Linked DNA regions of Homo sapiens: all the other regions are linked to region 5. Evidence: fine-mapped expression QTL. A gene starts in region 5. Each other region holds a variant in brackets. All regions are shown on one strand. Distances are between the middles of the regions. Region 1 overlaps MYO15B (myosin XVB). Region 2 overlaps RECQL5 (RecQ like helicase 5). Region 3 overlaps ITGB4 (integrin subunit beta 4). Region 4 holds the start of SAP30BP-AS1 (SAP30BP antisense RNA 1). Region 5 holds the start of ITGB4 (integrin subunit beta 4). Region 6 overlaps RECQL5 (RecQ like helicase 5).

What was found.
Region 1: its variant is fine-mapped to the expression of ITGB4 in whole blood (TOPMed, PIP 0.91).
Region 2: its variant is fine-mapped to the expression of ITGB4 in whole blood (TOPMed, PIP 0.98).
Region 3: its variant is fine-mapped to the expression of ITGB4 in T cells (TOPMed, PIP 0.98).
Region 4: its variant is fine-mapped to the expression of ITGB4 in whole blood (TOPMed, PIP 0.98).
Region 6: its variant is fine-mapped to the expression of ITGB4 in whole blood (TOPMed, PIP 0.97).

The regions. Positions count from the first base shown.
Region 1 is chr17:75,603,941-75,608,940 of GRCh38, reverse strand. MYO15B (myosin XVB) reads right to left here. Exons shown (of 64, transcript NM_001395058.1): 20 at 3,320-3,437; 21 at 2,920-3,077. Among named protein-coding and RNA genes, the nearest start is that of MYO15B, 19 kb to the right of the region's middle. The variant T/C (reference allele first, on the strand shown) is at 2,526.
Region 2 is chr17:75,628,006-75,633,005 of GRCh38, reverse strand. RECQL5 (RecQ like helicase 5) reads left to right here. Exons shown (of 20, transcript NM_004259.7): 9 at 1,338-1,556; 10 at 1,757-1,856; 11 at 1,996-2,032; 12 at 2,169-2,227; 13 at 2,314-2,387; 14 at 2,729-2,822; 15 at 3,164-3,298; 16 at 3,531-4,072; 17 at 4,244-4,334; 18 at 4,564-4,788. Among named protein-coding and RNA genes, the nearest start is that of SMIM5, 2.9 kb to the left of the region's middle. RefSeq lists an enhancer at 1-500. The variant C/G (reference allele first, on the strand shown) is at 2,103.
Region 3 is chr17:75,751,739-75,756,874 of GRCh38, reverse strand. It overlaps ITGB4 (integrin subunit beta 4), which reads right to left. Exons shown (of 40, transcript NM_000213.5): 31 at 4,519-4,701; 32 at 4,298-4,429; 33 at 2,901-3,110; 34 at 2,060-2,299; 35 at 1,025-1,174; 36 at 258-446; 37 at 16-171. It also overlaps a transcript of GALK1 not described here. Among named protein-coding and RNA genes, the nearest start is that of GALK1, 11 kb to the left of the region's middle. RefSeq lists silencers at 1,319-1,488, 2,696-3,305 and an enhancer at 2,335-3,108. The variant G/C (reference allele first, on the strand shown) is at 2,097.
Region 4 is chr17:75,682,164-75,687,303 of GRCh38, reverse strand. All of the region lies in intron 3 of SAP30BP (SAP30 binding protein), which reads right to left. SAP30BP-AS1 (SAP30BP antisense RNA 1) reads left to right here and starts at 2,505. Exons shown (of 2, transcript NR_186496.1): 1 at 2,505-2,839; 2 at 3,526-3,761. The variant G/A (reference allele first, on the strand shown) is at 2,058.
Region 5 is chr17:75,719,027-75,724,166 of GRCh38, reverse strand. ITGB4 (integrin subunit beta 4) reads right to left here and starts at 2,708. Exons shown (of 40, transcript NM_000213.5): 1 at 2,555-2,708. RefSeq lists enhancers at 422-973, 1,888-2,426, 2,427-2,965 and silencers at 2,686-3,075, 3,086-3,145.
Region 6 is chr17:75,651,571-75,656,570 of GRCh38, reverse strand. The region is part of intron 7 of RECQL5 (RecQ like helicase 5); the gene reads left to right. LOC107985013 (a long non-coding RNA gene) reads right to left here. Exons shown (of 3, transcript XR_001753017.1): 2 at 2,123-2,280. Among named protein-coding and RNA genes, the nearest start is that of ERLN, 7.8 kb to the right of the region's middle. The variant T/G (reference allele first, on the strand shown) is at 2,644.

The DNA.
Region 1 (5,000 bases), 120 kb after region 5:
CCAACATAGTGAAACTCTGTCTCTACTAAAAATACAAAAATTAGCTGAGCATGGTGGCAGGTGCCTGTAGTCCCAGCTACTTCATAGGCTGAGGCAGGAGAATCGCTTGAACCCAGGAGGCGGAGGTTGTATTGAGCTGAGACCAAGCCATTGCACTCCAGCCTGGGCAACAGAGCGAGACTCCATCTCAAAAGAAAAACAACAACAACAACAAAATTAGCCGGGCTTGGTGGCCTATGCCCGTAATCCCAGCTACTCCAGAGGCTGAGGCACGAAATCACTTGAAACCAGTAGCTGGAGGTTGCAGTGAGCTGAGATCATGCTGCTGCTGGAGTGCAATGGCGCGATCTCGGCTCACTTGAATCTCCGCCTCCCAGGTTCAAGTGATTCTCGTGCCTCAGCCTCCTGAGGAGCTGGGATTACAGGTGTGACCCAGCTGCACTCCAACTTGGATGATATAGCAAGACTCTGTCTCAAAAAAATTTTTTTAATAAAAAATAATAATTATAAAAAATAAAGGCCGGGTGCAGTGGCTCATGCCTGTAATCCCAGTACTTTGGGAGGCTGATCACCTGAGGTGGATCACCTGAGGTCAGGAGTTCGAGACCAGCCTGGCCAACATAGTAAAACCCCATCTCCACTAAAAACACAAAAATTAACTGGGCATGGTGGCAGGTGCCTGTAATCCCAGCTACTCGGGAGGCTGAGGCAGGAGAATGGCTTGAATCCAGGGGGCAGAGGTTGCAGTGAGCTGAGATGGCGCCACTGCACTCCAGCCTGGGTGACAGAGCGAGATTCTGTCTCAAAAATTAATTAATTAATTAAAAACTAAAAACGGGCAGAGGAGAAACAGACATTTCTCCAAAGGAGTGGCACTAATGTCTGAGATGCTCAACGTCATTAGTCCTAGAGAAATGCACATCAAAGCCATAATGAGATGCCACTTCACACCCACTAGCAGGGCTATGATTTTAAAAATGGAAAAGAATAAGTACTGGCAAGGATGTAGAGAAACTGGAACCCTTGTACATTGCTGGTAGAAACATAAAATGATGCAGCCACTATGGAAAGCAATTTGGCAGCTCCTCAGAAAGTTAAACATAGAATTACCATATGATAGAATTACCAGCACTTTCACTCCTTGGCCTATACCCCAAAGATTTGTAAACAGACTAGAACAGGCCGGGTGCAGTGGCTCACGCCTGTAATCCCAGCACTTTGAGAGGCTGAGGCGGGTGGATCGACTCAGAAGACAGGAGTTCAAGACCAGCCTGGCCAACATGGTGAAACCCCGTCTCTACTGAAAATATGAAAAATTAGCCGGGCGTGGTGGCGGGTGGTGGGTGCCTGTAATCCCAGTTACTCAGGAGACTGAGGCAGGAGAATTGCTTGAACCTGGCAGGCAGAGGTTGCAGTGAGCCGAGATCGAGCCACTGCATTCCAGCCTGGGCAACAGAGCAAGACTCCATCTCAAATAATAATAATAATAATAATAATAATAATAATAATTAATTATTAACCCTCAAGCCTGGAACTGAATGAATTTCTGACACATGCTACAACATGGATGAACTTTGAAACATTATGTTAAGTGAAAGAAGCCAGTCGTAAAAGGAAATATTGTATGAGTCAACTTACAGGAAGTATCTAGAATGGGCAACTTCATAGAGACTCAAGTAGACTGAAAGTTACCAGGGGCTGGGGGTCTTGGGGGCAATAGTTACTGCTTAATGGGTCCAGAGTTTCTGTTTGCGGGATGAAAACGTGTTGGAAATAGATAGTGGAGATGCCTGGCTCCCCCGATGTTCTGCACTGTCTTCACTTCATTCTCAGCCCTCGAGTTACTCTCTGGGAAGATCACTGGCTGCTCTACCATCTGAATCTGACTTCCCAACCAGCCTGGGAGGCCCCGTCTCTGGCATCCCCAGCTCTGTCACCAGCATCTGGCCCAAGGGTAGATGAGGCAGACGGTCAGCCAACAGCTGTTGGAGGAATGTGTGAAGACAGGCTGTGAGGGCGAAAAAGAGATGATTAGGTGAGAAGTGGGAGGGTGGTGTTATAGGAAAGAGAAGTCTAAAGTCACTGCAGGGTAAAAGTCTGGCCTAAATTGGGCTGGGGAGGTAGTCAGGTCCTTAACAACATGATTCATGCTTTGAAAAGATGACTGTAGCTGGGCACGGTGGCTCACACCTGTAATCCCAGCATTTTGGGAGGCTGAGGCGGGCGGATCACCTGAGGTCGGGAGTTCGAGACCAGCCTGACCAACATGGAGAAACCCCGTCTCTACTAAAAATACAAAATTAGCCAGGCGTGGTGGCATATGCCTGTAATCCCAGCTACTCAGGAGGCTGAGGCAGGAGAATCACTTGAACCTGTTAGGTGGAGGTTGCAGTGACCCGAGATCGCACCATTACACTCCAGCCTGGGCAACAAGAGTGAAACTCCATCTCAAAAAAAAATTAGCTGAGTGTGGTGGCACAAGCCTGTAATCCCAGCTACTCGGGAGGCTGAGGCAGGCGAATCAC[T/C]TGAACCCAGGGGGCAGAGGTTGCAGTGAGCTGAGATCGCGCCACTGCACTCCAGCCTGGGTAACAAGAGCAAAACTCCAACTCAAAAAAAAAAACAAAGATTGTTCCCACAGTGTGGAAAACAGACCAGAAAAGAGAATGATAAAGGAGTCAGGACCACAGGTTCAGGTGGCCTCAGTAGGTAATGAGTTTCTTGTGGCCGGGGTATTCAAGCAGAGGCTGCACGGGTATGGGGGGTAATGCCGTCAAGGAGAGTCACATGCCGATGAGATGGCACTGGGGCAGGATGACTTGCCTTGAGGCCCTATGTTTCCCCAACCCTGCCCCACCACCTGGAGGACGAACCCACGGCCTCACCCCACCCACTTCAGCCCTGGCTCCAACGCCTGCAGACCTGGCCTGGAACCCACGCATGCGAGCCTGCATCCGGGGCAGGACGCGCTGGCGGGAGATGCAGGTGTGGAAGCTGCGGTGCAGGTCGACCAGGGCCTGGGAGCGCTGCTGGTCCCGGAGCTCCTCCAGCCGCTGCCAGCCCTGCTCCTGCAGCAGGACCTGTGGGTAGAGGGGTGGGCTGTAGGCAGGAGCCAGGAGCCAGCCCCTCCTGCTCTCCTCCTCTGGTCTCAGCCTCCTCCCTTCCAGCCAAACCATTTGTTCTTCTGGCCCTGCCGTCCAGCCCTTCTGTCTCCCACCACTTGGATGGATCCCCAAATCCTGGGTTTGTCCCTTTGGGCCCAGAATGCACCTCTCCTTTCCCATTCATGCTGCCCTCTGCACACAGGGATACACACACCCACCTTGGTGGCTCCAAGGTGATAGAGAGGTGATTCGGCCCCCAGCACCTGGCTCAGGACGGCACCACACTTCTCCCGGTCAGAGAGGTCTTCCTGCCCTTCTGACCCCAGGGCCTGGAAGCTGCTCCAAGGATGGAGCTGAGATCAGAATAGCCAGAACCTCCTTTTACACTTTTTTTTTTTTTTTTAAGACGGAGTCTCGCTCTTTTGCCCAGGCGGGAGTACAGTGGCGCGATCTCGGCTCACTGCAAGCTCCGCCTCCCGGGTTCAGGCCATTCCCCTGCCTCAGCCTCCCTAGTAGCTGGGACTACAGGTGCCCGCCACCGCACCCGGCTAATTTTTTGTATTTTTAGTAGAGACAGGGTTTCACCGTGTTAGCCAGGATGGTCTCGATCTCCTGACCTCGTGATCTGCCCGCCTCGGCCTCCCAAAGTGCTGGGATTACAGGCGTGAGCCACTGCGCCCGGCCTTTTTGGTTTTTTTTTTTGAGACAGAGTTTCATTCTCATTGTCCAGGCTGGAGTGCAATGGTGCAATCTCAGCTCACCACAATCTCCACCTCCCAGGTTCAAGTGATCCTCTTGCCTCAGCCTCCCGAGTAGCTGGGATTACTGGCATGCAACACCACGCCCAGCTGATTTTGTATTTTTAGTAGAGACGGGGTTTCTCTATATTGGTCAGCTGGTCTCAATCTCCTGACCTCAGGTGATCTGCCTGCCTTGGCCTCCCAAAGTGCTGGGATTACAGGCGTGAGCCACTGCACCCAAGCCCTTTCACACTTGCTGTACGACACCCTGAGCCCCTCAGTATTTATTTCATTTCTAGATCATTAAAAAATTTGGAAAGTGCCTGCTCTATGCCAGGCGCTCAGCTGGGGGCTGAGACACTGCAGTGAACTTGGGCAGGGAGGGTCTCTGCGCTGGAGCTCAGGGGGAGAACAGGTGAACATGGTGTGCGCAGGAGGCATGAGGGCTGGTTCTGGGCCACGGGAGCAACAGGAATGTGGTTCCCAAGGCCTTCGTCTCCTCGCCACCCAACACAGTAGGTCTCAAGACAAGTTTGTGGGAGGGAGGGAGGGAGGGGTGTGGAAGGGAGGGGCATGGAAGGGAGGGAGGGGCGTGGGAGGGAGGGACGTGGAAGGGAGGGAGGGGCGTGGCAGGAAGGGGTGGGTGGGGGAGTGTTGAAGGACATTTCACAGGTCCAGATGGTGGTACCAGTTTGGCTTAATGGACACTCAGTAGTTAGTCTGTACCAAGCAAGCACCGTGCAGGTTCTGGGGATGTGGGTGACAGTCTGTGGTCACGGGATGCCACAGTGCATCAGGGAATGGCACAGATCAGCAGACCTGGTCTGTGCTGGGTGGAGAGTTGTACCTGGAGGTTCCTCTCACCCAGCTTCCGGGCTCAGGGGTTCTTGTTGGAGGTGACAATTGCTGTAGCTGGTAGGTTTCCAGATGGCAGAGACAGAACGTGCCCCGCCCTGGAGCTTCTCAGGATCTGACTCAAGGCTGGGAACACCCATCCCTACTGCCTGCCTTTTGCTCAGTCCCCCAACCAGGCCATCCCCATTGCCAAGGCCATCACAGGCTAAGGAGGTCCACAGAGCCCTGGGGTGAGGCTGCTGCTCCTAGTAGCTGCCCCCTCCCTTCTGAGGCAGCCACCAGCCCAGCTCAGCTGGACATCAAC
Region 2 (5,000 bases), 91 kb after region 5:
ACCGGGGTGTTGCAATCAGCCTTGCATCCTTGAGCCTGCGCCTTGGGGTCGCAGCCCCTCAAAGGGCTTCTTGCAGCCGCAGCAGTGCTCACACTGGGAGGAGTTCTAGTTAGAGCAGTTAATGCCAGCTATTCTTGTCCCTGGGATGTGGCACCCCAGACAGCCCTGCCTGTGTTCCAGCATCTCCTCTTGGGCTTCCCTACCCTGTGCCACGTTCCTGGTGGCAGGAATGGCTGTTTATAAGGAGCCTGAGAGAGCTATGGCCCCTCTTGCGGCCTCTGCAGCTGCCCCAAGGGTCGACAGCCACCCCCATGCAGAGGGAACAGAGATGCGACAGAGCCTCGTGGGCCAGCCAGAGGCTGCTCCCTGCTCCCAGCATGGGCAGAGGCCGCTCACCCCAGGAGGGCTGCAGCAGGGTTGAGACAGAGGAAGACGAGAGGAGGACTCCAGGCGAGGCTGCGTCTCCCTGGCTAAAGGCCCCACCTGTGACACCCTCACGGGTTGATGATGGGACATATTACTACACAGCCGTGCCTGCCTTAGCAATGCAAATACGTTTTGAGAAATTTAACTTGTCATTGTGCGGTCACAGAGTATACTTAGGGAAATCAAACAGCAATTCCAGGGAAGAGAAGGAAAAAAATATCAAGCGGCACAGCCTCCTACACACCCAGGCCATGCGCTACAGCTTGTTGCTCCTAGACCACAAACCTGTACATCACGTTACTGTCCTGAGTACCGTATGCAGTTGTAACACAGTGGTATTCACATATCTAAGCACACATAAGCATAGAAAAAGTACAGTAGAAATACAGTGTTAGAATCGTAGGGGACCACCATTGGCTGTGCAGTCATTCCATGGGGCATGACTGTACTGTAATGCACTTCAGACATCACCTCAGCCATCTTCGCTCAGTCCGTGAGGGCTGTGCCTTTCTGCACCATCTTACTGACGGGAATGCATGGGCTTTAGGAGGTGAAGTGTGTCACCCAAAAGACACCCTTCATGGCAGAGCCAGCATCTACATCCCATTGCCAGAGGACAGAGGGGAGGAGCAGAGGAGTAACTGGACAGAGTGGGGTTCACATCCTGCTTCCCGGGAGACCCCCATGTGTTACGTGACCTTGGGAAAGTTGGTTCACCTTATCGTCCTCATCTGTGTAGTGGGGAGAGCCAAACGATGCCTGGTGCAGCTTGGATGAGATGAGGGGTGTGGGGCTCCCGGCATGGTGCCGGACGCGGCAGTGCTCGCTCAGCTAGCGATTCAGGCTCGGGTGAACAGACGCTGGCCGACTGGGCTCTCCGCCCCTCACCTCTGCGGTGCTGCCTGCTCCAGGTGCCGCCATGCCGCCATTGCCAAGTACTTCGGGGATGCGCTGCCTGCCTGCGCCAAAGGCTGCGACCACTGCCAGAACCCCACGGCCGTGCGGAGGCGGCTGGAGGCCTTGGAGCGCAGCAGCAGCTGGAGCAAGACCTGCATCGGGCCCTCCCAGGGGAACGGCTTTGACCCCGAGCTGTATGAGGGAGGCCGCAAGGGCTACGGGGACTTCAGCAGGTAAGGGGCCGAGAAGCCAGGGCTCCAACCCGCTGGAATTGCCTGGCATTCCCTTGGCGCCAGGGCCAGACCAGAGGTGGCACGATGCCGCAATCCCCCCTTGAGCTGGTAGGACATCAGGGACATTGCCGTTCTAGCAGCAGCACACATGGGGAGGGCAGAGCCCAGGCCAGGGCCACTCACGCCTGGCCTGTCCCTAGGTATGACGAAGGTTCTGGAGGCAGCGGGGATGAAGGCAGAGATGAGGCCCACAAGCGGGAGTGGAACCTCTTCTATCAGAAGCAGATGCAGCTGCGCAAGGTGAGGGGAGGCACTCAGTGGCCTGTGTGGGGCCCCTGGTGGCCCCCTGCTCGCACCTCTCAGCCCCTTCTCTGGTGCTGGATGGGACTGTCCTGCGGCAGGGCAGGACGCCTCATGGGTCCTTCATGTTGTCCTCCAGGGCAAAGACCCCAAGATAGAAGAATTTGTACCCCCAGGTCAGTACAGAAATGTTCCTGGAGGCTTGTGGGCTCTTCCCGGGGCATGGAGGGAGGATTCTCATCCGGG[C/G]TGTGGGGGACCTCAGAGCGCAGAAGGTGGAGCGAAAGGACCAAGGACCACCCCCCCCCCCCACAGATGAGAACTGTCCCCTGAAAGAGGCTTCTAGCAGGAGGATCCCCAGGCTGACTGTGAAGGTAAGAGACGGGCAGCTCCTCAGCCACCCGCCGGGGCCCTCCCCCAGCCGCGAGGCCATGCGACCAGTCTCACTGTCCTGTGCCAGGCACGGGAGCACTGCCTGCGGCTTCTGGAGGAGGCGCTGAGCAGCAACCGCCAGTCAACACGTACCGCTGATGAGTGAGTTCCACGATCACTGGGCTGAGGAGCACTCCAAGCTCTCGTTCCCTTGGAGACTGCAGGACCCTGTCAACCCTGGCCTGTTTGGGCCACCTCTCCCCAGATTGTACCTCTCCTACTCCAGGGGACTGCCCCTACAACCCCACCAGGGCCAGGCATGGCTACAACTTAGGTGCTACCAGCAGCTGCTGAGGGACAGTAAGCCACAGGGTGCTCAGAGAGCCCTAATCAGAATCCCTGTGCCCAAGGCCTACCCCACCAGGCCTGGAGTCCCGCAAGAGCTCAGCAGGGAGAAGCCCAGGCCCACCTGATACCTTGTGCCTGTTACCTTGCACCCACAGAGCTGACCTCCGGGCCAAGGCCGTGGAGCTGGAACATGAGACATTCCGGAACGCCAAGGTGGCCAACCTCTACAAGGCCAGCGTGCTGAAGAAGGTGGGCCTGGTGCAGGCGGACCCAGGGTCGTTGCAGGGGCCCCTCCATACTCTGACGCAGAAGCTGTCTGCCAGCTCTCTGGGCTCAGGCAGCCCAGAACTCACCCTCCCCAGCCCACCCCAGAGACAGTTTATGGGGGTAGAGCTCCATTCTCCACTGGCTGGACATGTTTCTAGCCAACCCTGTGAGGATGGGAGGCCTAAAACTTGCCCAGTGGTCAGTTGCCTGTGGCCACTGGCCACAGAAACCCACTTGTAGTGCCTAGTAGAAAAGGAGGGCTAGGTGGGGCATGTCAGGAGGAGCTGGCGGGTGCCACAGCCTCCCTGCCTATCCCTGCCCAGGTGGCCGATATCCACAGAGCCTCCAAGGATGGGCAGCCCTATGACATGGGAGGCAGTGCCAAGAGCTGCAGTGCCCAAGCTGAGCCCCCGGAGCCCAATGAGTATGACATTCCACCAGCCTCCCATGTGTACTCGGTGAGCTGTGGCCCAGTGGCCTCCAGACCTGTGACCAGGAAAGGCTTCACTTCCCCTCTGCCCTCAGGGGTGCACCTCTTGCCAAGGCCTGGCTCCCCACCAGGGTCCTGCCTGCCTCTTCCCTCCCACACTCCTGAGAGCCCCGTCCCAATGTGAGTTACTGCTCCAGCCAGCGGTGCCCTCAAGGGGGCCTAGTGGGCTGAACCTCCTCTCCTCCTGCTCACATTTACAGCTCAAACCCAAGCGGGTGGGAGCTGGTTTCCCCAAAGGCTCCTGCCCGTTCCAGACGGCCACGGAACTGATGGAGACAACTCGGATCAGGGAGCAAGCCCCCCAGCCCGAGCGGGGAGGCGAGCACGAGCCCCCGAGCCGGCCCTGTGGCCTCCTGGATGAGGATGGGAGTGAGCCCCTCCCTGGGCCCAGAGGGGAGGTCCCTGGAGGCAGCGCTCACTATGGGGGGCCCTCCCCTGAGAAGAAGGCAAAAAGTTCCTCTGGGGGCAGCTCCCTTGCCAAGGGCCGGGCTAGCAAGAAACAGCAGCTCCTAGCCACAGCGGCCCACAAGGATTCTCAGAGCATCGCCCGCTTCTTCTGCCGAAGGGTGGAAAGCCCAGCTCTGCTGGCATCAGCCCCAGAGGCAGAAGGTGCCTGCCCCTCCTGTGAGGGGGTTCAGGGACCCCCGATGGCCCCAGAGAAGTACACAGGGGAGGAAGATGGAGCCGGGGGACATTCGCCTGCCCCTCCCCAGACTGAGGAGTGCCTCAGGGAGAGGCCAAGGTAAGGGTACAGGTAGTCATAGAATCTTCTGGAACCTACACGGCAGCATCCCCTTTGCTCACTGGGCGTCTGAAGCTCAGAGCTCACCCCTGAGATGGGCTCTCCTAGGCCTCCTGGGATGAGGGAGCCACCAGGACCCAGTGCTGTGATGCCTGCTCTTCCCTCTACCAGCACCTGCCCGCCCAGAGACCAGGGCACCCCTGAAGTCCAGCCCACCCCTGCAAAGGACACATGGAAGGGCAAGCGGCCTCGATCCCAGCAGGTGCCGGCAGGGATGAGTCTGTTGGGGAGGAGAGAAGGGCTGTGGGCGAGGCCAGGAGCTGTTGTGCCCTGCTCAAGGGGTCAGGGAAAATCAGCTTTCTTTCCACACCTGGCAGCAGATGGGCTGGGCTGGAGAGAGGCAGCTGGTGCGGGGACCCAGTCTTCTGGAGGAGGGGAGCAGGCCAGTGGAAGGGAGCTCAGGAGTGACCCTCTGCTGTGGCCCTTCTCAGGAGAACCCAGAGAGCCAGCCTCAGAAGAGGCCACGCCCCTCAGCCAAGCCCTCCGTCGTAGCTGAGGTCAAGGGCAGCGTCTCGGCCAGCGAACAGGGCACCTTGAATCCCACGGCTCAAGACCCCTTCCAGCTCTCCGCTCCTGGCGTCTCCTTGAAGGAGGCTGCAAATGTTGTGGTCAAGTGCCTCACCCCTTTCTACAAGGAGGGCAAGTTTGCTTCCAAGGTAGGGGGAGTGAGTGGGCTCTGCCTTCTCCCATGCCTGGGGTATGTGGGTGTAGTGGGGGTGGGAGGCAGGGAGTTTGAGCCCCAGAACACAGTGGGCCTAGGGCCAGCCCCACGCCCGTCCTCCCTGGGGCCTGCCTTGCCGTTGGGTCATGGCCGTGGGTTGCTCTGGGGGTCAGGGCAGGGTCCTGCTCTCTTTTTTTTTTTTTTTTA
Region 3 (5,136 bases), 33 kb before region 5:
CGGGGTGGGCAGCACCTCCTCCTTGGGCCATCTCACAGGTCACCAGGTAGCCGACGATATCCCCATTGGGCCTCCGTGGCCGCTCCCAGCTCAGCTGCAGCGAGTCTGGGCTCAGGGCAGTGAACACCAGCGGGCCTGGGGCACTGGGAGTGCTCAAAGTGAAGGCGGAGCCTGGGGGCAGTAGAGGAAGAGCATCAGCCTGTGGGTGGGTGGTGGGCATGATGGGGGCAGCTCTGGGGCTGGGGGAGGCAACTCACCTGGCAGGGGACACAGTGGGCTCTGCGGGTGCACCTGGGATTCAATGGTGATGACACCCTCACGCTCTCGGCCCCAGCCTTCCTGGCTCTGGGCCCGCACGCGGAACACGTAGGAGTGGTTGGGCAGGAGGTCTTCCACCACCACCGAGGTCTGGGCAGGGTTGGGGATGTTGAGCCGATGCAGCTCACCTGGGGGGATCAGGTGGGGGCACACAGTAGTGCAGTGTTACTCCCACCCCTGGCCTGATCCTCCTCGTCCCTAAGCTGCCATCGAGACCTAGTTATCACCCACCCAGGACTAGCTGTGGTTTGGGTACAGGTTGGGTACAGTATGGTATGGCTGGTTGTTCAGATTGTGTACTATACAAGAGTGGAGCCTGTAATCCCACTCATGTTTAGGCAACATCCTGCATCCTGGTCATGCTGCTTTGAATGTGCCTGCCCAGGGAAGTGCCACTTCCTTGTTCCCCCAAAGGCATCTCAGGCCAGCAGAGGCCCTAGGATCCCAGCCCAAAGGGGCCTTGTTAGGCAAAACCTAGCAGAGAATGACCAGGAGAGAGGCCCAGGGAGGTGGGTGAGACCTCAGAAGAGGGGAGGCAAAGAAGTGGGGTGGAGAATGGGGTGGGAGACCCTCTCAGGCTGGATGGGGGCTTTAGCGCTCAAGGGACTTGGGTGGGTTCCTGACACAGCTGAGGTACCCTATGTGTCACACTGGGGCCAGGCCTTGCAGGGCTGCACCCCGCAGCCTGGCAGCCACCATGCCTCACCGCCGTTCAGCAGCTGGTACTCCACACTGTAGCCCTGCAGCGGCCGCTCGCACCGCGGCTCCTGCCAGCTCACTCTGAGAGATGTGGGCCCCAGGGCAGAGAACACCAGGCGGGTGGGCGTGTCGGGCACACCAGCAGTCAGGCGAGAGTCTGGGGACAGGAGGCCGCAGTCAGCCAGAGATGCAGGGGCTAGGGTCTCAGTGGGAGTCACAGTGCTGCCCCCTGACCTCCCTCCCTCAGCTGGCATGTCTACACTGACCGCTGGCTGGACAACTCACTCACCCTGCAACACCCTGTCCAGGCTGCCCAGCACCTACCGCACATCCTCCAGCAGGGTGCAGGCCCTGCTTGTGCCAAAAGAGAGTGAGCCCCGTGAGTCTGCCAGCCCCACCCCCTCAACTGCTCAGCTGGCCTGGCCCCTCTCCTGCCCCAGCCCCAGCCCCGCCCCCTGGGAGGGCAGAGGCAGAGTTAGGCATCAGCACTGATGGTAGGGCAGGTGGTTAGCGCCTGTGGGCAGGCGGGGGTCCTGTGGATGGAATGGAGGGGAAGCAGTGGGCACAGCTGGCGGCTGCTATGGTGGCTGGATGACAGATGGAGCAGGACAGCTGTGGAGACAGGATGGCCACCCCTGTACTACCTGGGCCCCAGGAGGGCGCTGCTGGCCTCCCAGCCAGGATTATAGAGTCTCGTGGGCCCCTGGAAGGGGGGAACCCTTTCATCTGAGCCCGACTCCGGGACCCCAGGGCCCAGGACAGCGGAAGCCTGCTCCTCCCGTGTTCCCAGATGGGAGGGAGGCCTAGGGCAGGACAAAACAAGAGTGAGAGGAGCAGGGAGTGTGCATGCATGTGTGTACGTGTGCGCATGCATGTCTGTGTACATGTGTGCATGCGTGTGCACGTGTGTGCGTGCATGTGTGCATGCGTGTGTGTATGTTGGAGAATGGGCGGTGGGGACAGCAGACAGAAGCCCGAGGCTCCAGGAGCTGGAAGAGAGGAAGGGTTAGTGGGAGAGGCAGGGTTGGCTGAGGTCACTCACCGTGGGAGGAGACGGAGGTGAGGGTGGAGTAGTCCCT[G/C]GGCAGTGTGGTCGAGTGTGAGTGTTCTGAGCGGGTCAGTGAGTTGTAGTCCCGTGTGAGGGTGGAGGATGTGCTTAGCACGCGGTGGGGCACGTGTGGGCTCAGGTGGGTGCCATAGGCAGCAGCACTGGTCGTGGTCATCCTGTGCAGGGAGTTGGTGCTGCCCGGGAAGGCAAAGTCCATCCGGCCATTCACCAGGTGCTCTGCAGGGGGAGAGCAGGGTCCCTTGGTCAGGCCTGCCCCAGACCCGGGCCCCGTGGGGCAGGCTGGGCCCTGCACATTCCTGGTCACCCACCCTCTGGGTGGCTTTTGCTTAAATACAACCAGTTTCCCTCAAACCACTAGGGACAGAGGCCCTCTGTCCCTGCAGGAGCCCAAGGGCCACCCAGGCTTCCACAGCCCATATCCTCTGGCCGGCCACTCTATCGGTGTGAGCACTGCTGACCCTGGCAGTGGCGGGGGTTTGCTGCGTCTGCAGTCAGCTCTGCCCTGGGGAGATCCCCAAGCCTTCCCTCCTGTCCTTTGAGGCCCCTGAGGGGTCTACTTGGGTGCCAGGGTCCGCTTCCCGGGCAGACTTCTGAATTTGCACCCCCTGGCCAGGCAGGCACCATAAGGGCCCAAGCGCCTGCCTCACGCGTCCCCTGGCACTGGGCCCTGCCTCTGAGCAGCTGTGCTCCCAGCCGCCAAGGCCCGGGCCTGGCTGAAACTGGGGCCCCCGAGGCAGCGCAGACGCCCACCCCAGGCCCTCAGGCGCGAGTGAGGCTGGGTGGGCGCGGATCGGGGGGCGGCGGGTGAGCCTGTCACCTCCGGGGGGCCCGGGTGTCGCACTGCGGGGCAGGCTGCCGCCCTTCCCGCCCGCGCCGCCGTCGTCCGGGGGCCCGTGGGGCGCCTCGGCGTCGGAGGAGCGCCCGCTGCTGGCCGACAGGCGCGGGATGAGCTCCGGGGGCAGCCGCCACGTGACGCGCCGCAGGTCCAGCTCCTCCCCCAGCAGGGGCTCGAACTTCCAGCCGCAGCCTTGGGAACAACGAAGGGCCGCGTTGGCACCGCCGGGGGGCGCCGGGCCGAGCAGGGCCAGGCGGGGGAAGGCCGTAGGCTCTGCGAGGGGAGCCCGTCTCCAGCTCCCGGGATCCCGGGGTGTGTGTTGGGGGCGGGGGTAGATGCGCACGGCCGGAGCGGGAAGGCCGCGGCAGGTGAAACCCTTGCGCGGCTGAAGCCTTTCCAGATGAGCGAGTGCAGCCTCGGCACAGCTGGGGAGGAGAGACCCCCGGACCCGCCAGAAACCTGGGGGAAGTCTGGGCTCTGTCACCAGCTGTGAGGTCTCCCTTGCTTTACTTAACCTCTCCGAGACTCAGTTTCCCGTTTGTACAATGGAGAGAGGAATCTTGCCCCTGCCCGCCTCCCAGGGACCGTTCCGCAAGCCACCGAGCGCTTCGCAGGTAGTGTTAGAAGCAGCTGAGCTGGGGTTCCAGAGTCACACCAGCTGCGCTCCACCTGAACCCCTCAAAATGGCTCCTTAAGCCCAAGCTGAGCCCCGTGGGGGCCAGTATGTGTTCACCGGGGGCAGCTTGAGGCATCGGCAGGGACAGAAGAAAATACAAAAGATATACGTGCCCCAGAGGTTTTTCCACTCATGGTACTGTGTGATTGGTATCCCATTATACAGAGCAGAAAAGTGAGGCATGGAAAGGATGAGTGATTCATCTGATGTCCCACAGGTGGAGCCACAGCTGACACTGAGCACTCAGGAGGCCCAGCTAAGGGCTCCGCAGCACTTTGTGCTGGGAATCAAGGAGGAAGGACAGAGCTGTTGGGGGTGTTCTTGTCTCCTTGGCTCCCCTACCCCTGCCAGGTGGCCGCCTGGTGGCTGCCCAGGGCTCCTGGGCCAGGCCTGCCCCTGGGGGGTGGCCTGAGTGTCCTGTGTGCATGGCACAGCTGGTGAACCTTCAACTTGTGAAGCTGTGTTTCTTCGTGGTCCCGTGGGCATGAACTCATGTGCGCTTGCACAAGGCTGTGTGTGTCTGTCCCCCAGGCACTGGTTCCTGTGCCCCATGCACAGATGTGCACTCCATTGCATTTGTCCAAGGCTGCCTTAACCTCCATGTCCTCTAGTTGCTGGCCCCTTTGCCCTCTCTGGACCCAGTGGACTCACTCTGTACCCAAGACCCCCACTGTCCTCTTGTGGGTCCCAGGTCTCCACTCACCAGTGTCATCGGAGACGCTGGGCCTCTGGCTGCCCGATGGAGAGCGTAGAACGTCATCGCTGTACATAAGGAAGCTGTCGTAGTCCTCCCCGCTCTGGGCGTCCACGATAGGGATGTCAGGGATGATGGGGACTGCAGGGCAGGGGAGTGAGCCAGGGCCCTGGCTGCTGCCCCCTGCCCCCCTGCCCGGTCTGCCCCTCACCTCCCTGCCCACCACTCACTGGACATGGGCCTCTTGGGCTGGGTGGCCAGGTTGATGATGGCCTCCCGCTCAGGCCCCCAGCCGGCCCCGTTGCGCGCCTTCACCGTGTAGCGGTAGGGCTGGGACTCCCGAAGGTTCTCAATAAGCAGCATCCGGTTCTTAGGGTTGTCAACCAGCACTTTCTTCATGGGCCCAATAGGTCCTGGGGCAGAGAGAGTGCTTCAGAGGGTCACCCAGGTCCCAGCCTGGTCCCAACACCACCCCTGACACAGCAGGACGGCCGTGCATCCCCTGGATGGCACCCAGGGGCTGGGGAAGCAAGGCAAAGCCAGCCACTGCTGAATTGCCGCCTGCGGAGCCCTGAGCGTCAGCATGACTGGCGTGGACATATGTCACCAGTCCTCCAAGGGACTCTGCTGAGTAAGTGGCAGAGCCAGGGCTGGACTCAAGTTGGCCTCGATGTCACCTCTACCCATATATCCACGGTGCCTCCACACAAGGCAAGGGCACGCATAGGGGTTGCCCACCCTGCCTCCCTTCCAGGACTGGAGAAATAACTGTTCTGCTAGGCACCTCTGATCTCGGGCTGCTAGATAAAATAATGTATAAAATAATCCTTTTTATTTATTTATTTTTA
Region 4 (5,140 bases), 37 kb after region 5:
TGCTCCTAAATCCTAAGACAAAAATAATTACTGTATAGTTAATTCATTTATTTTTTCCACAGATAATTTATTGAGCATGATTTATACACCAAGCAATGGGCCAAGCATTGAGGATAAAATATGAAAACTCAATCTAGGGGAATAAGTTTAGGTATTATGCTAAGCTCTTCAATTAAGAATCTCATTTTTCACAACAGTCCCATGAAACTGTGCTCTTAACCATCAGGCAATACAGCTGCTTCAGAACAACTGCTATGCCATCCTCCAGAAACCCTCTTGTGGAGGCATCAAAGTAATAGTCAAAACAAGGTTTTCTGAGATCAATGTGAGTCACTTCAGGTTGCCAAGAAAGCAACAATGCTGGATTACCTTTATAAAATACCTCCAAGTTCCAGAATAAAATGATGTTGGTTTGACAGAGACATGGTTGGGGGCTAGGAGTGAGAGCTGTCAACAGCTCAGCAAAGCCTCCAAACCCAATGCTGCATGGGAACATCCCACCCCAGAGGCCAGATGCCAGCCACCCCCACTGGAGAGCCCTGGAGAAAGCCCATTGCTAGCACATTTCCTTTAGTTGTATCCTGTCGGCCAGGACTGAGCCACTGCCGTGGGCACACTGCCTGCCTGGGAATGGAAACACTCAATTTATCAGAAAAATGGGCGGAAGTTGGTGGGGCCCTCTGGGACACGCTGGGGTTGCCTTTGCTTAGACCACTTGCTGATGGGAAGGCTCTGCTCCCAACCACAGAAGGTTTCTTTTTTTCTTTCTTTTTTTTTTTCTTTTTCCTGAGATGGAGTCCCGCTCTGTTGCCCAGGCTGGAGTGCAGTGGCGCAATCTCGGCTCACTGCAAGCTCCGCCTCCAGGGTTCACGCCATTCTCCTTCCTCAACCTCCAGAGTAGCTGGGACTATAGGCGCCCGCCACCACGCCTGGCTAATTTTTGTATTTTTAGTAGAGACGGGGTTTCACCTCGTTAGCCAGGATGGTCTCGATCTCCTGACCTCGTGATCTGCCTGCCTCAGCCTCCCAAAGTGCTGAGATTACAGGCGTGAGCCACTGCGCCCGGCCCCAACCACAGAAGGTTTCTATAGGAATGGGTGAAACAGGAGTTTGCCAAGACTTATTAAGCCGGCTATAGAATTGGCCTTGTAGACTGAAGACAAGGTAGGGAGGAGGAAGGGAAACAGTTTCTCTATTTGAAAAATCTGGCTAAATTTACAAAGCCCACGTGACTCAGCACGGCTCCTGATGTTGTTACATGGAACATGTTACAACCAACTAGACTTCAATGTAAATGCAGGGAGCTATTTCCAAGGGGGACTTTTGTTATCCGACTATTCCAAGTACAATCTACATTTGATTCAAGACACTTCAAGATTTTTGGTTTCTTGAAAGTTACAGAAGATGGTCAGAGAGGGCCATTCCCTTTTTGTCTTATCCCCAGAGTGTCAGGAACGGGTGTATCTAGGTCCAGAGTTTGCCTCACACCAAGGATCTGAGTCAAGCTCTTGGTGGTGAGGCCAGGACAGGCTTTTTCCCTTCAAGGCTTCCCACAAGAACAGTATCTCTGTGCTTTAGGTTGATATATTTGGGGGGTTGGGGGGAGCCTGGAGACAGACAAGGACAAAAGAGACAGCTTTGTGAGGTTGAGAATGCAAGTCTGGAAGGCACACAACTCTACATGGCTACCAAATTACAAAAGCATTCCATCTGAGAGGCTGGCCGACAAGCTGAGGAGTTAGTTACATCAACATCTCAGGCAAATATACTCGCAGTCCCTGAAAGTCAGGGTGACAGAAATGCAAACTGGTCATCATCGACACCGGTAGGAAGGGGACTGAGTTACTTAGAGGGCCAAAAAGAAGGCAAGCATCTTTGAAGCACAGCCCAGAAAATATTTACCTAACTCCAAAGTTAGGAATAGAAATGAGCAAAATCCTATTGAACCCAGAAATCACACAGCAGCATTTCAGGAGACATGGATGAAAATACAGAACGAAGGTCGGAAGTGCTGGATCCCTAAGGACAGGCAGTCCTCTGTATCATATAATTTCAAA[G/A]AAATGAGTCCCAGATGGGGAAGGAGGGGCCCAGCCACACCTCAGTTAGCAATCCATGGCATCTGGCCCGAAGGGAAGGAGGTATGTTGGGGCTTGCACGGCTGATGGGAGGGTGTACCAGACACGCGGTGGCTCCCTGTGGGCTGTGGAACCACAGGAGTGAGGTGGGGCTTCTGGGAGTCTCAGCTTCAGGTTACTTGGATCAACTGCCATCAAGAAGGCCCCTCTGGCAGTGCAATGGAGCCAAGGAGGGGTCAGAGGGAGAATAATGGTCATTGTTCCCCTTTGCATGAGATCACAACTTCCAACAACTACCAGCGCTTCTACCAGCAGTGTTCAGCTTATGATGTAGTGAGGCCTTCCTTGGAAGGTGGCAGGACAAAGCCAAAGCAGGCTTGGATTTCCTTCCCTTGCGACAATTGAAGAGTGACTTTCATGGCCTGCCTGCCTTTCTGACTCCTGCTCAGATCCGGTTATCACCCAGCAGGCCCCTAGAACCCCCAGAACCCTAGACCTCAGGCTGGGGTAGGTTCTTCCCAGCACAGCCACTCCACGAGCTTCTGGAAATTCCATGTCTCCCAGCTGTGCAAGGCAACCCTAGTGTTGTTGAGGAAAAGCCTAAAGAAGACCATCCATCGTGTTGAGCGCAGGGAAGTGCCGAATGCTACGTAGGCTTGGGCATTCTCAATAGTTCAAGGCCCACATTACAACTTCCAAGAGAAGGGTGGTGGATGGCTCACAAACCAGCAATGGTCAAGGGCCATTTCCTTCTCTGGTCCTGGGTGAGTCATACTGTAATTTTGTTCCCTTCTAATCAGCACTCAAAAGATTACAGGGTATGGGAGATAGAACACAGGGGCAGGTGGACTAATAAAACAGGATGGAAGGATGAAGCATATACTCTCCCACTCACATAGCACCCCACATGACACCCTAAACGTAGAACCCACTACAAGCTAACCTACACTATTCAAGTCTCACAATAACCCTATGAGGTAGACATTATTATTTCCATTTTGCACACGAGTAAACTGAGGTAAAACACAATGAAGCAGCTCACCCAATAAATGGCAATGTTGAAATTCAAGGCCAAATCTGTTTGGCTCAAAAGCCCAGTTATCCAGTTATTCCCAACTTCCCACCTTCTCCCTCTAGACTAAGAGGCTGCAAAGGGTAGCGGTTTCTAGGAAGCTGTTGGTTCAACCACTGGGTAAGCCAACAGTGAAGACCAAGAAGGAAAAGCACCCCTCCAGGAATGATTCTCTAGCAGGTCAGAGTGAAGCAGGTATTAAAACCCTGGACTTAAGGGAAGACAGCCAGAATTATTATCTTTCACCTATGACGATCAGGGGAAACAGCTCTAGAGTCCATGGGGCCCCAGTGAGTCACATCTGAGTTAACTTGTTTGAAAGGGTTGGTCCTGCAGGCTTAATCACACAAACCGTGGGTGCTACCTCCCTGTCCTTAGCCTAGAGACTTCCTGGGGACTCACAGAAAAAATGCTACCAAATCCTGAACTCTACCCAGCTCTTCTCCCTTCCTGGGGGAACAACCATGTGGACTTCCAATAAGAACACGAGCTTAAAGAACGAGTTATTCCTTCTGACCCAAGTAAAGCACATGGCCCATTTCCTGTTCACCAGAGAACTTCATTAGAGGGAAACTGCAGACATAGCATTCAATTATAAAAACCTATTCAGATTTTGCTAGTGTAACGTGCTTATTTCTGGATTTAACTTATATAGCTGAAGAAAATATGAGAATGAGGGAAATGATGTGAAAATCTGTGGGGCTAAGGACTGGTGTCACTACTAGAACAAAAGTTGGTAGATCTCAATGGGTTTTTAAAAAAATCTCCATTTGGAATATTTAAAAAATTATTATTATTATTATTATTTTTTACCAAGCACCATGGTTCATGCTTGTAATCCCAGCACTTTGGGAGGCTGAGGCAGGCAGATCATTTGAGGTCAGGAGTCCGAGACCAGCTTGGCCAACATGGTGAAATCCCAGCTCTACTAAAAAAAATACAAAAATTGGCCAGGCGTGGTGGTGTGCACCTGTAGTCCCAGCTATTGGGGAGGCTGAGGCAGAAGAATTGCTTGAACCCCAGGAGGGAGGTTGCAGTGAGCTGAGATCGCACCACTGCACTCCAGCCTGGGCGACAGAGTGAGACTCTGTCTCAAAAAAAATAAATAAATAAATAAATAAAATAAATTTTTCTTACAGCAGCTTTATTGAGATATAACTCCTATACCATACAATTCTTTTTTTTTTTTTTTTTTGAGACGAAGTCTCACCGTGTCACCAGGCTAGAGTGCAGTGGCGTGATCTCAGCTCACCGCAACCTCCGACTCCCTGCTTCAAGTGATTCTCCTGCCTCAGCCTCCTGAGTAGCTGGGATTACAGGCACGTGCCACCATGTCTGGCTAATTTTTGTATTTTTAGTAGAGATGGGGGTTTCACTATGTTGGCCAGGATGGTCTTGATATCCTGACCTCGTGATTCGCCCGCCTTGGCCTCCCAAAGTGCTGGGATTACAGGCATGAGCCACTGCGCCCAGCCTCATATGCCATACAATTCTTCAGTGTTTGTTTTTAACTGTTCATTTGTGTCATATTGCTATTATAATTATACAGTACAGCAACATTGAAAATGTTTATATATAGATAGAGACAAAGCTGGATGCAAAACATATGTTATTATAGGCAAACATAAAAGAAGAATAAAAATGGCTGTATGAGGCCGGGTGCAGTGGCTTGCACCCGTAATCCCAGCTCACGCTTGTAATCCCAGCACTTTGGGAGGCCGAGGCAGGTGTATCACCTGAGGTCAGGAGTTCAAGACCAGCCTGACCAACATGGAGAAACCCCATCTCTACTGAAAAATACAAAATTAGCCGGGTGTGGTGGTGCACACCTGTAATCCCAGCTACTCGAGAGGCTGAGGCAGGAGAATCGCTTGAACCAAGGAGGTGGAGACTGCAGTGAGCTGAGATCACGCCACTGCACTCCAGCCTGGGCAACAAGAGTGAAACTCCGTCTCAAAAAAAAAAAAATGGTCGTATGGTTAGCATCATGAGA
Region 5 (5,140 bases):
GCTTACTGCACCGGGTTGGGTTCTGCAGTGACTGCCCGGCCCATCAGGGTGGGGTCTGAATCATCTGCCCTCCCCTGTACCTCTGCCTGCCCCAGAGTTAAGTTTTCTGGGCCCCTGAGCTGTTCACCCTTTCACAAGTTAGCCCAGAGTGAGACATGCACACACACTGTGGCTCCCCTCAAGGCGTCCCCAGCGGCTGTGGGTTCAGTATTAAACCATCCTAAGTCCTCAGCGGCCTTCAGGGCAGGACTGGACATCCCTGAGGCCCTCTAAGAGATGCTCAGCCTGAAGCCTGGACAAGAAAAGAGGCTGGCGGCAGAGCCATCCAGGCCTGCAAGGCCGGGGCAAAGGTGAGCACCGCGCCTCTTTCTCTAGGGCCAGGTCTCCCAGGGGCCCAAGCCTCTGCCCTGCCCACGGGCCCTCCCCATTGAATCCTGTCTCAGCCCGGCTTCTGGGGCAGTGGCCACCCCAGGGTCTGGGGGCTGGGGTCCCCGAGGTGCTGGAGAAGCCCTTCTCAGGCCAAGGGCAGGAAGGCGTAGCCTGCTTCTAAGGCGTGCAGCCTGGAGGAGGCCACAGCAGCGCCAACACATGCAGGTCAGACCTGTTGTGGCACAGGGACTGGGAGGCAGCCCTGAGCCAGCAGGGAAAGGGTGGGGACAGCAGGGTTCCTAGAGGGAAATGACTTCCTTGCAGCCTCGGGGTGTAGCCGCCACACCCACATGCTACACAATACAGGCTGCAGGCTCAGGCCTCCCAGGCATCATTACACAGGCAGGTACAGGCCTGGAGAGCTGAGCCCAGCTCTTCCTCCCACTGTCCCTGGCCACAGCCCCTCAGGCAGTGCTGATTCCCACACTGTGACTGCCATATGAGCCCAGGGCTTCACGGAGGAGATTGCTCAGCACAGGAGCCCGGCGGGAGATGATTTCATTCTGCCCGTTTCCCAGATGAGAGACCAGGCACAGAAGGCTGTGGAACTTCCCCATCCCGCGGACAGCACTGGGAGGGCCAGGACAGGGCCCTGCTCTGCAGGCCCTGCCTTTAACCTCCATGGCAGCCTCCACGCAGAAGCTACAAAATGGCAGTTAGAGGGTTGGCGAGGCACCCAAGAGTGTTTGGCTTCATTTGTTTAGAAAGTTTTAAAAGTAGGAGCCAATGTTAGAAACAACGAGATTTCCCATAAAAGTTAGGAATTTGTGTTTATCATTAGATGTATCACGATGGGCTGGGCCCAGCGCTCAGGACACCTACTCTCCAGGCGGCCCGGACCCCACCAGGCTGCCCCGACTTTATGTACCAGCAGGTCCCTGGAGTGTGTGACTGCCACCCTGAATGCCATCACACTGCAGCACAGGCAGTTTCCCCCCCACAGGGACACACACACACACACACACACACACACACACACAGGCCATGCCCACCCACCCACAGGCTCAGAGCTCCCCTGGCCCCCATCCCAACCCCTGGGGACCCCTCTGGGCACACCTGCTCCTGTCCACTATCCTCTCCCGCTGTCACATCTCCTCCCCTCAGGGACCCAGGCCCTTCCTCGCCCCAGAGAGGCAGCTGGCCAGAAGTCTGGGGACCCCAGGCCCTTGGCTGTTCTGTCTCCCTGAGAAATCAGGGTCGAGTAGACAGACATACCTCCCCTCCTGTCCCTCCTGCTGTCCTTCCCTCAGCCCCCAGGATGGAGACTCCAAGCCTTCACTGCCAGCTCTGTTTCGGACAGCAACAACCATGCCACCTGTGCCTGGTCCTTGTCCTCAGGGTGTGGCAAGGCCATGGGGGCAGAGGAGAAGCCCTGTCCCTGCTCCTGGGAGTCACCAGGAGCCCCAGAGCCCCAGTCCCAGCCAGAGGGCCACCCCAGAGGCTGAGCCATGGGAAAGAGGGCGGATGCTGCAGGAGGTGGCAGTGTTGGGCACAGCCCTGGGGCTGGTGGGTGAGGCCTGTAGAGCTTCCTGAAGGAAGGCGCCTGGGGCTGACTTTGGGAGGAAGGCAGGCCTGTGCTTGGCCAAGAGAAAAGGAAAATCAGGGACTCCCCAGCCCCAGATGGACTGTGGCACCGCATAGAGCAAGCCCTGCCTGGAGCCGGGATGGCGTCTGCCTCTCAGGGTGGCTTTTAAAAGTAGGAGCCAATGTTAGAAAGAACGAAATTTCACATAAAAGTCAGGAATGTTGGTTTATCATTAGATGCGCCATGATGGGCTGGGCCCAGCACTCAGGCTGGTGTCTACTCCACCTTCTTTGCAAACCCTGGAGGGGCCCAGCCCCAGAGGGCTACCAGCCACTGGCCTCTGCCCACTTCTCCCGCAGGCGCACCCAAGGCGCTCCTCTGGCCTGGAGGTCTGATGGGCACCACCCTTCTCTAGCTGCCCTGCCCCTTGGCTGCCAGCTGCCCCCGGCGCACCCCGGGGAGGCTGGGCACCTGTCCTGCGCAGCGTGGACAGAGGGACCGGGGCCTGTCAGCCTTCAGGGAGGGGAAGGGGAGACAAAAGCCACCGGCCCTGCCCGACCAGCTCCCCTGCGCGGCTGCCCAGCTGGGGCGGGCACTCACCCTCTCCCGGCCAGCCTCGGCTGCTGCTGTGCGCCCGTCCTGGACCTACCTCGGGGCGGACTCGCTCCCTCCGCGCCTGGGCTGCCGCTAGGAGATGGGGCTGCAGCGCGCGGGCGAGCAGGGACTGTCCGAGGGCGGGCGCGGGGGTTGGGGGGGTGGGGACGAGGCGGGCAGCGCTTTATGGGGCGGGCGCGCAGGTAGGAAGGAGGCGCTGGTGAGTCAGACCGGCTGCATTCCTTCGCGCGGCGCGCACCTGTCGGGGCAGGAGCTGGGTGCCGCCGCCGGAGCCGGGTCCGCCCCCCGGAAAGGGCTGCGGCTCCCGCGGCGCCCGCCCAGCGCCCCGATCGGCTAGCGGCGGGGGCCGGGGGAGGAGCCACCGCTCTCCCTCTCCCTCCGGTCCGGCCCTGGGCGCGGGGCCTCCCCACCCCTCCAGGCTCCGGGCTCCAGGCTCGGGTGCGCGGACTGCCCCGGGCTGGAGGCGGCCTCTTAGCCCCCGTCCGCACGGGAACCCTCCCTGCCCCGACTCTGGGCCGCTAGCCAACGCCGGGCTGTGCTGCTGCTGCTGCCCCGACGGTCGTCAGCCGCGTACCCCCCTCCCCGCTCTCCGTGCCAGCGCGAGGCATGGGCCCAGGGAGTGCCCCCGGCCCGGTCGGGAGGCCTGACTCCCCGTCCCAGCTCTGCTCTGCAGTTCACGGGGTCCTCTCAGCCTCCAACCCCTAACCTCACGTTGTATCCAGAGGGAGAGCCGAGGAAGGGTCGGGTCCTCGGTGCACCCTTCAACAAGCTACTTAAATCTCCTTACAGTGTGAACAGTGATACCCTGGAGAGGTCAGTGCCGACCTGGCATGGATTGGCACTCGATGCCTTGTTACAGTTGTTCTTAACAAGCTGGTTACAGAGCTGGCCCCTCCCTCCCGTCAGTCCTCTGAGAGCAGTCTCTCCATTGCCACTGCTTACCACGGGTGTTCAGGTCAGAGAAGGGCTTCATTTTTCTTTTTCTTTTTGTTTTCTCTCTCTTTTTTTTTTTAGATGGAGTCTCACTCTGTCGCCGAGGCTGGAGTGCAGTGGTGCAATCTTGGCTCACTGCAACCTCTGCCTCCCGGGTTCAAGCGCTTCTCCTGCCTGTTTCCCGAGTAGCTGGGATTACAGGTGCCCGCCACCACGCCCGGCTAATTTTTGTATTTTTAGTACATCATGTTGGCCAGGCTGGTCTCGAACTCCTGACCTCAGGTGATCCACCCGTCTTGGCCTTCCAAAGTGCTGGGATTATAGGCGTGAACCACCATGCCCAGCCAGGGCTCCATTTTTCTCTAGGCTTACTGGCCAGCAATGCCAAACAACACCAGACTGCTGGCACAGCACTGTCCAAACCATGCGGTTTCAAGCCACCGTGCTTTTTCAACAGGCTGGTCCCTTCCCATGACATTGAGCCCAGTTTATCCTTCTTGTCCTTGAAGACGTTGCACCAACCACGTGCTAGAGAGCCTTCCTTGACCTCTCCACACCCCAAGTTGGTTTATGTGTCCCCATAACCCTTGGGCCATGGCTTTTACATGGCATTTGCCACATTGGTTTGAAATGATGTTTAGGAATCTCGCCACACTGTTGGACTGTGACTCCAAGGGCAGCTACTCTCTAGCACCTAGCACCATGCCTGGTGCATAGCAGGTGCTCAATAAAAGGGTGGTTGAGTGAATGGGATGGTCACACAGCCTCCCTGAGCCTCCATGCTGTCATCTGTAAACAGATTCCTCCACTGCTACCTCTCAGAGTGATTGCAGGGGTGCTGGTTGCAAATGTGTGAGTCGCCACCTTTCCTGGTCATCTGAGAGCTGTTCTGCACAGAGAAAGTGTTCAGAGAGGCTTGCTCCTGGATTTGGGAACAATGTGGAAGGAGTCCCAGTTTGGTTGAAGCACTCAGATCTGTGTGTGTCAGGCCAGCACAAGTGCCCTGTGGACCTGAGTCACTCCAGCAGGTACCTATCCACCCCAAAAAACAGAAACATGGAGCAGGAGCTCAGAGAACGGCCAAAAACAGCTTGCCTGAGGGGCCTGGGTCTGCCAGCAGCACCCATTAGAGAACTAGGGGGTCATATACACCCCACTGTGGGTGGGGGCTGAGGCTTCTTCCTAGAGAAGACCCAGGTCCAGAGCTGGCGATGCCCCAGGCCACTGGGCTCAGCAGCCCCTTCCTCTCTTCATTGCAAACCCTTCTGAAAATGACTAGGGGGCCTGGAGCCCTGTAGCAGCTGAGAGGCGAGATGTCAACCCAGGGAGGTCTCACTAAGTAAGATAAGCCATGAGCTTCCTTGGCTTCTCGGAGTCCTGGGGTTCATTACCTGGAGCCCGCATGTGGACTTGGCAGTGGGGAGTCCCTGAACCATCTCAGATCTTGTGCAAACTTTGAGGAGTATCTGATTTCAGAATGTGGGTTTGCTGGGAGGGGAGCCTTAGCTTACACTGGATTCCCAAATAGGTTACTGGCCCCAGAAGTTTAAATATTGCATGTGATTTTTTTTGTTGTTGTCATTGAGATGGAGTCTTACTCTATTGCCCAGGCTAGAGTGCAGTGGTGCGATCCTGGCT
Region 6 (5,000 bases), 68 kb after region 5:
AGATCAGTAGCTTTTCTCTAGTCAGATGAGAGCCAAGGAAAAAAAAAATCAGTAGCTTTTCTCCACATTACCATAAATACCTAGAAATAGAAACAAAAAAAAAACTTAATTTACAACAATAAAACTTATAAAATACTTAGGAATAAGTGTTACAAGCTGTTAACACGAGTTTTTTTCAAAAAGCTCCCCAGTAGGCTGGGTGCGGTGGCTCACGCCTGTAATCCCAGCACTTTGGGAGGCTGAGGCGGGCAGATCACCTGAGGTCGGGAGTTTGAGACCAGCCTGACCAACATGGAGAAACCCCGTCTCTACTAAAAAAATGCAAAATTAGCCAGGTGTGGTGGCGCATGCCTGTAATCCCAGCTACTTGGAAGAGGCTGAAGCAGGAGAATGACTTGAACCCACGAGGTGGAGGTTGTGGTGAGCCGAGATCGCGCCATTGCATTCCAGCCTGGGCAACAAGAGTGAAAGTCGGTCTCAAAATAAACCAAAAAAAGCTCCCCAGTTGCTTTGAATATATGGCCAGGGTTGACAACCACTGATTTAGATGAAGAAAACTAAAATCTCACCAAGAGAAAACAAGCTCTGGGGCCAGGAGCAGTGGCTCTTGCCTGTAATCCCAGCACTTTGGGAGGCCAAGGCAGGCAGATCACCTGAGGTTAGGAGTTCAGGACCATCCGGCCCAACATAGTGAAGCCCGTCTCTAACAAAAAAAATACAAAAATTAGCCAAGCATGGTGGCACACACCTGTAGTCCCAGCTACTGGGAAGGCTGAGGTGGGAGAATCACTTGAACCTAGGAGGTTGAGGTTGCGGTAAGCTGAGATCATACCATGGAGTGGAGGACGCACTCCAGCCTGGGCGACAAAGTGAGACCCTGTCTCAAAATAAAAATAAAAATTAAAAAGGCCAGGTGCGGTGGCTCACGCCTGTAATCCCAGCACTTTGGGAGGACGAGGTGGGCAGATCACGAGGTCAGGAGATCAAGACCATCCTGGCTAACATGGTGAAACCCCATCTCTATTAAAAATACAAAAATATTAGCTGGGCGTCGTGGCGGGCGCCTGTAGTCCCAGCTACTCGGGAGGCTGAGGCAGGAGAATGGCATGAACCCGGAAGGCGGAGCTTGCAGTGAGCCCAGATTGCACCACTGCACTCCAGCCTGGGTGATAGAGCGAGACTCTGTCTCAAAAAAAAAAAGGCCAGGCGCAGGGGCTCATGCTTGTAATCCCAGCACTTTGGGAGGCCAAGGCGAGCGGATCACTTGAGGCCAGTAGTTCGAGACCAGCCGGCCAACATGGTGAAACCCCGTCTCTACTAAAAATACAAAAATTAGCCGCGCGTGGTGGCGGGCTCCTGTAATCCCAGTTACTCGGGAGGCTGAAGTAGGAAAATCGCTTGAACAAAGGATATGAAAAGCAAATAATATGAAAAGAAAGTTCCCAGAAAAATTTATCAAATGACATGTTTAAAAATGTTAGGCTGGGTGAGGTGGCTCATGCTTGTAATCCCAACACTTCGGGAGAATGACATGGGAGGATCTCTTGAGGCCAGGAGTTTGAGTAGTTTGGGCAATGTAACAAGACTTTATCTCTACAAAATATTTAAAAATTAGCTGGGTGTAGTGGTATGCACCTGTAGTTCCAGCTACGCAAGAGGCTGAGGTGGGAGGATCACTTGAGTCCAGGAGGTCAAGGCTGCAGTGAGCTGAGATCATACCATTGCACTCCAACCTGGGTAACAGAGTGAGACCCTGTTTCAAAAACTAATAATAATAAAAAAAATTAGCTGAGCATGGTGATGTGCGCCTGTAGTTCTAGCTACTCAGGATGCTGAGCTGGGAGGATTGCTTGAGCCTAGGAATTCAAGGCTGCAGTGAGTTATGATCATGCCACTGCACTCCAGACTGGGTGACAGAGCAAGACTCTGTCTCCAAAAAAATAAATAAATAAACAAATAAAAATGCAATGCTGTATGTGGAAACTTGAAGGAAAAAAAAGACATCTTCAGATAACAAAGGTTTCAAAAACTTTCCCCTGGTATGTCATGTCTCAGAAGCTATTAAAGGATGTTCTCCATTGTAGAGAGGCAGTAAACCTAGAAAGCAAAGATGGAAACTTACCCAGGAGTAAGTCTTGGCACAGGACAATATTGGAGAGTAGTCCGGAAAGACAGCTGTGTCCCAGGCCTAGGGAAAACTGGTCCAGATTGCACTAGGGGGCAGAAGACTCCAGGAAGGAAGGTTCTAAACATCAAAGTGGAAGCTGGCATCTCTGGCTCCTATCGAAATGAATTGTTCATTATGTTAGGACAGTTAGGGGTGAATTAATAACATACTGAAATCTAAGTAAATGGAGAAAAACAAAGCTATTTCAGGGGAAACACAGTTACACAAGAAAGGAAATGTGATCACAGGAAATATAAAAATGCAATCACTTCGGTTTAGCTGTGAACTCTGTTGACATAGTCATAATAAGGAAAATATGGATTTAATAAGAAATTGTGTTGTAAACATATTGGGAAGTTGGGGGTACAGAATCTGTGTGTATTTGTGTGTATTGGTGGGGATGAGTTACCTGCCCAAAGCAGAAACTCAATAGATGATGTCTCAGATATCAGTGTCTGGTTTTTGTTTTTTTGGGG[T/G]TTTTTTTTTGTTTTGTTTTGTTTTGTTTTGTTTTTCAGACAGTCTTTGTCGTGCAGGCTGGAGTGCAGTGGTGCAATCTCAGCTCACTGCATTCTCCATCTCCCAGGTTCAAGCAATTTTCATGCCTCAGCCCCCCAAGTAACTGGGATTACAGGCGCCCACCACCACGCCTGGCTAATTTTTGTATTTTTAGTAGAGACAGGTTTCACCACATTGGCCAGGCTGGTCTCGAACTCCTGACCTCAAGTGATCCACCTACCTCAGCCTCCCAAAGTTCTGGGATTACAGGCATAAGCCACCATGCCCGGGCTCTTTTTTTCCTTTTCTGTATTAAATAATTCACAGTATTTTAAAAGGATATGTTGGCAAATAGACATGTACACAAAAAAGGCCGCTGATGAATAATCACATCACTCACAAATGCTCAGTATTCTGCTAGTTGATTCAGCCACAAGTCCATAGACAGGCTTATAACAGAGTGAAGCCAGGAACGGTCTCTGAGCAGAGCTGCACCAGAGCTTCGGTCACTAAGAGGGGAATTACCTCCAGGAATGGGCAAGGAAGGAAGTTGGCTGCCATCTTTAGAGTTCCACTGCCCTGACCAGGTGTCCACATTTGAAATGTATAGTGCCCATTCCTTACCTAATAGTGGTTCCTGGCCCAAGGTGAGCCTGTACTTTGAATTGGATAAGGGTGCAGAGGTCTTCCTGGTGGGAAGGCCTGGAGCTGTTGTTGCTCAGCTGTGGGGACCACCTGCTATTGCCCTACTCCCCTCTAGTGGGAGCCAAAGGGAAGGCTGGCTGATGAGTGTCTGCGGATTGAGGATGTGGCAGGGACTGGTGCCCCCACCTCCCTCCGCCCCACCACCAAAGATGGGGCTCTGCCTGCTGTGTGCCTGTCACCAGCAACCGGCAGTCATGCCTTGGGTTTCCCAGGTGGAGAGGTGGCAGGCAACATTTTAAAAAGAAAACAGGAAACTATATTGTGTGGGGGAGGCAGGAGTGGAGATGAGAAAACAGTTTGGATTTTGTGAGAGGGGCTTTGGGGGAGTTTGGTAGTTGTTGGTAACTTAAGTGCTTTTTCTTCCTTTTAAGTTAGTTGCAGGCTTTGGTTTGGAAAGCCCCAGGGAAGTGGGGTGGGGGACAGAAACCTGAGGCTCTTGCCCCTTTATCTGCCTTCACAGTACCATCTCCTTCCCCCAGCTTTACCCTGCGCTCAGGAGCCAGGCCTCAGCGCTTCCTGCTATCCACTTCCCATAAGCCACTCCTCTGATATTAGTCCATAGCCAAAGGAGCTGTGGGTCCAGGCCTGGTGACCAGCCCAGCTCAGCCCGCTCATTCAGGGTGCTCCCTACCTGCAGGCAGGAGGCAACACCCTGTCTGCTACCATTAGCACCTTCCAGAGCCCACCTCCCCTGCCCAGCCGTACCCTGCTCTGCCCCATCTGGGATGCTGTGCTCAGGCATGAGCTGGCAGGGCCGCACACAGCCTCCCTGGTAAGTAGAGACTCAGGAAACCTTTGGGGTCCTCCTGTTTTCTGGTTGTGTGATCCAAGTGGTGCACACTGGCCCCTTGGGTGCCAACTGAAGGGCTTGGGAATCTTGCTCTCCTGGTGTAGCTGGCAGCTGCCCACCCCCACCCCACATGGGTTTCTGAGTCGGCAGGTCAAGCATTATTTTATTTTATTTTATTATTTTATTTGAGATGGAGTCTTGCTCTGTTGCCCAGGCTGGAGTGCAGTGCCACGATCTCAGCTCACTGCAGCCTCTGCCTCCCGGGTTCAAGTGATTCTCCTGCCTCAGCCTCCTGAGTACCTGGGATCACAGACATGCACCACCATGCCTGGCTAATTTTTGTATTTTTAGTAGAGATGGAGTTTCAACATGTTGGCAAGGCCGGTCTCGAACTCTTGACCCCAGGTGATCCGCCCACCTCAGTCTCCCAAAGTGCTGGGATTACAGGTTTTAAATTGTATTTTAAATTCATGTTTTAAGCTTATCAAGAAGAGTCACTTAACCTTTTAATATATCTCCCTCCAATATACACAGAAGTATATGTGTTCATATTTGTTAAGTTCACAACATTTGTGCGTGTATTTACTATTATTAAAATAGGTGATATTATATAGCGCTTCCTAAATGCCAGTCTGTGGGCCCTTTGCATGAGAACCTCCTGAGAAGCTTTTCGGAAACTCTCAAAAGCTCATCCCAGAAAATTCAGTTCAGTAGTCTGGGGGTTATGATACATAGTCAGGTTTGGGGACACTTTTGTAAATGGCTTTATTACTGTCATTTAATATTTTTCTCCCTTGTTACTTTTTTTTGTTTTTGAGACGGAGTGCAGTGGCATGATCTCAG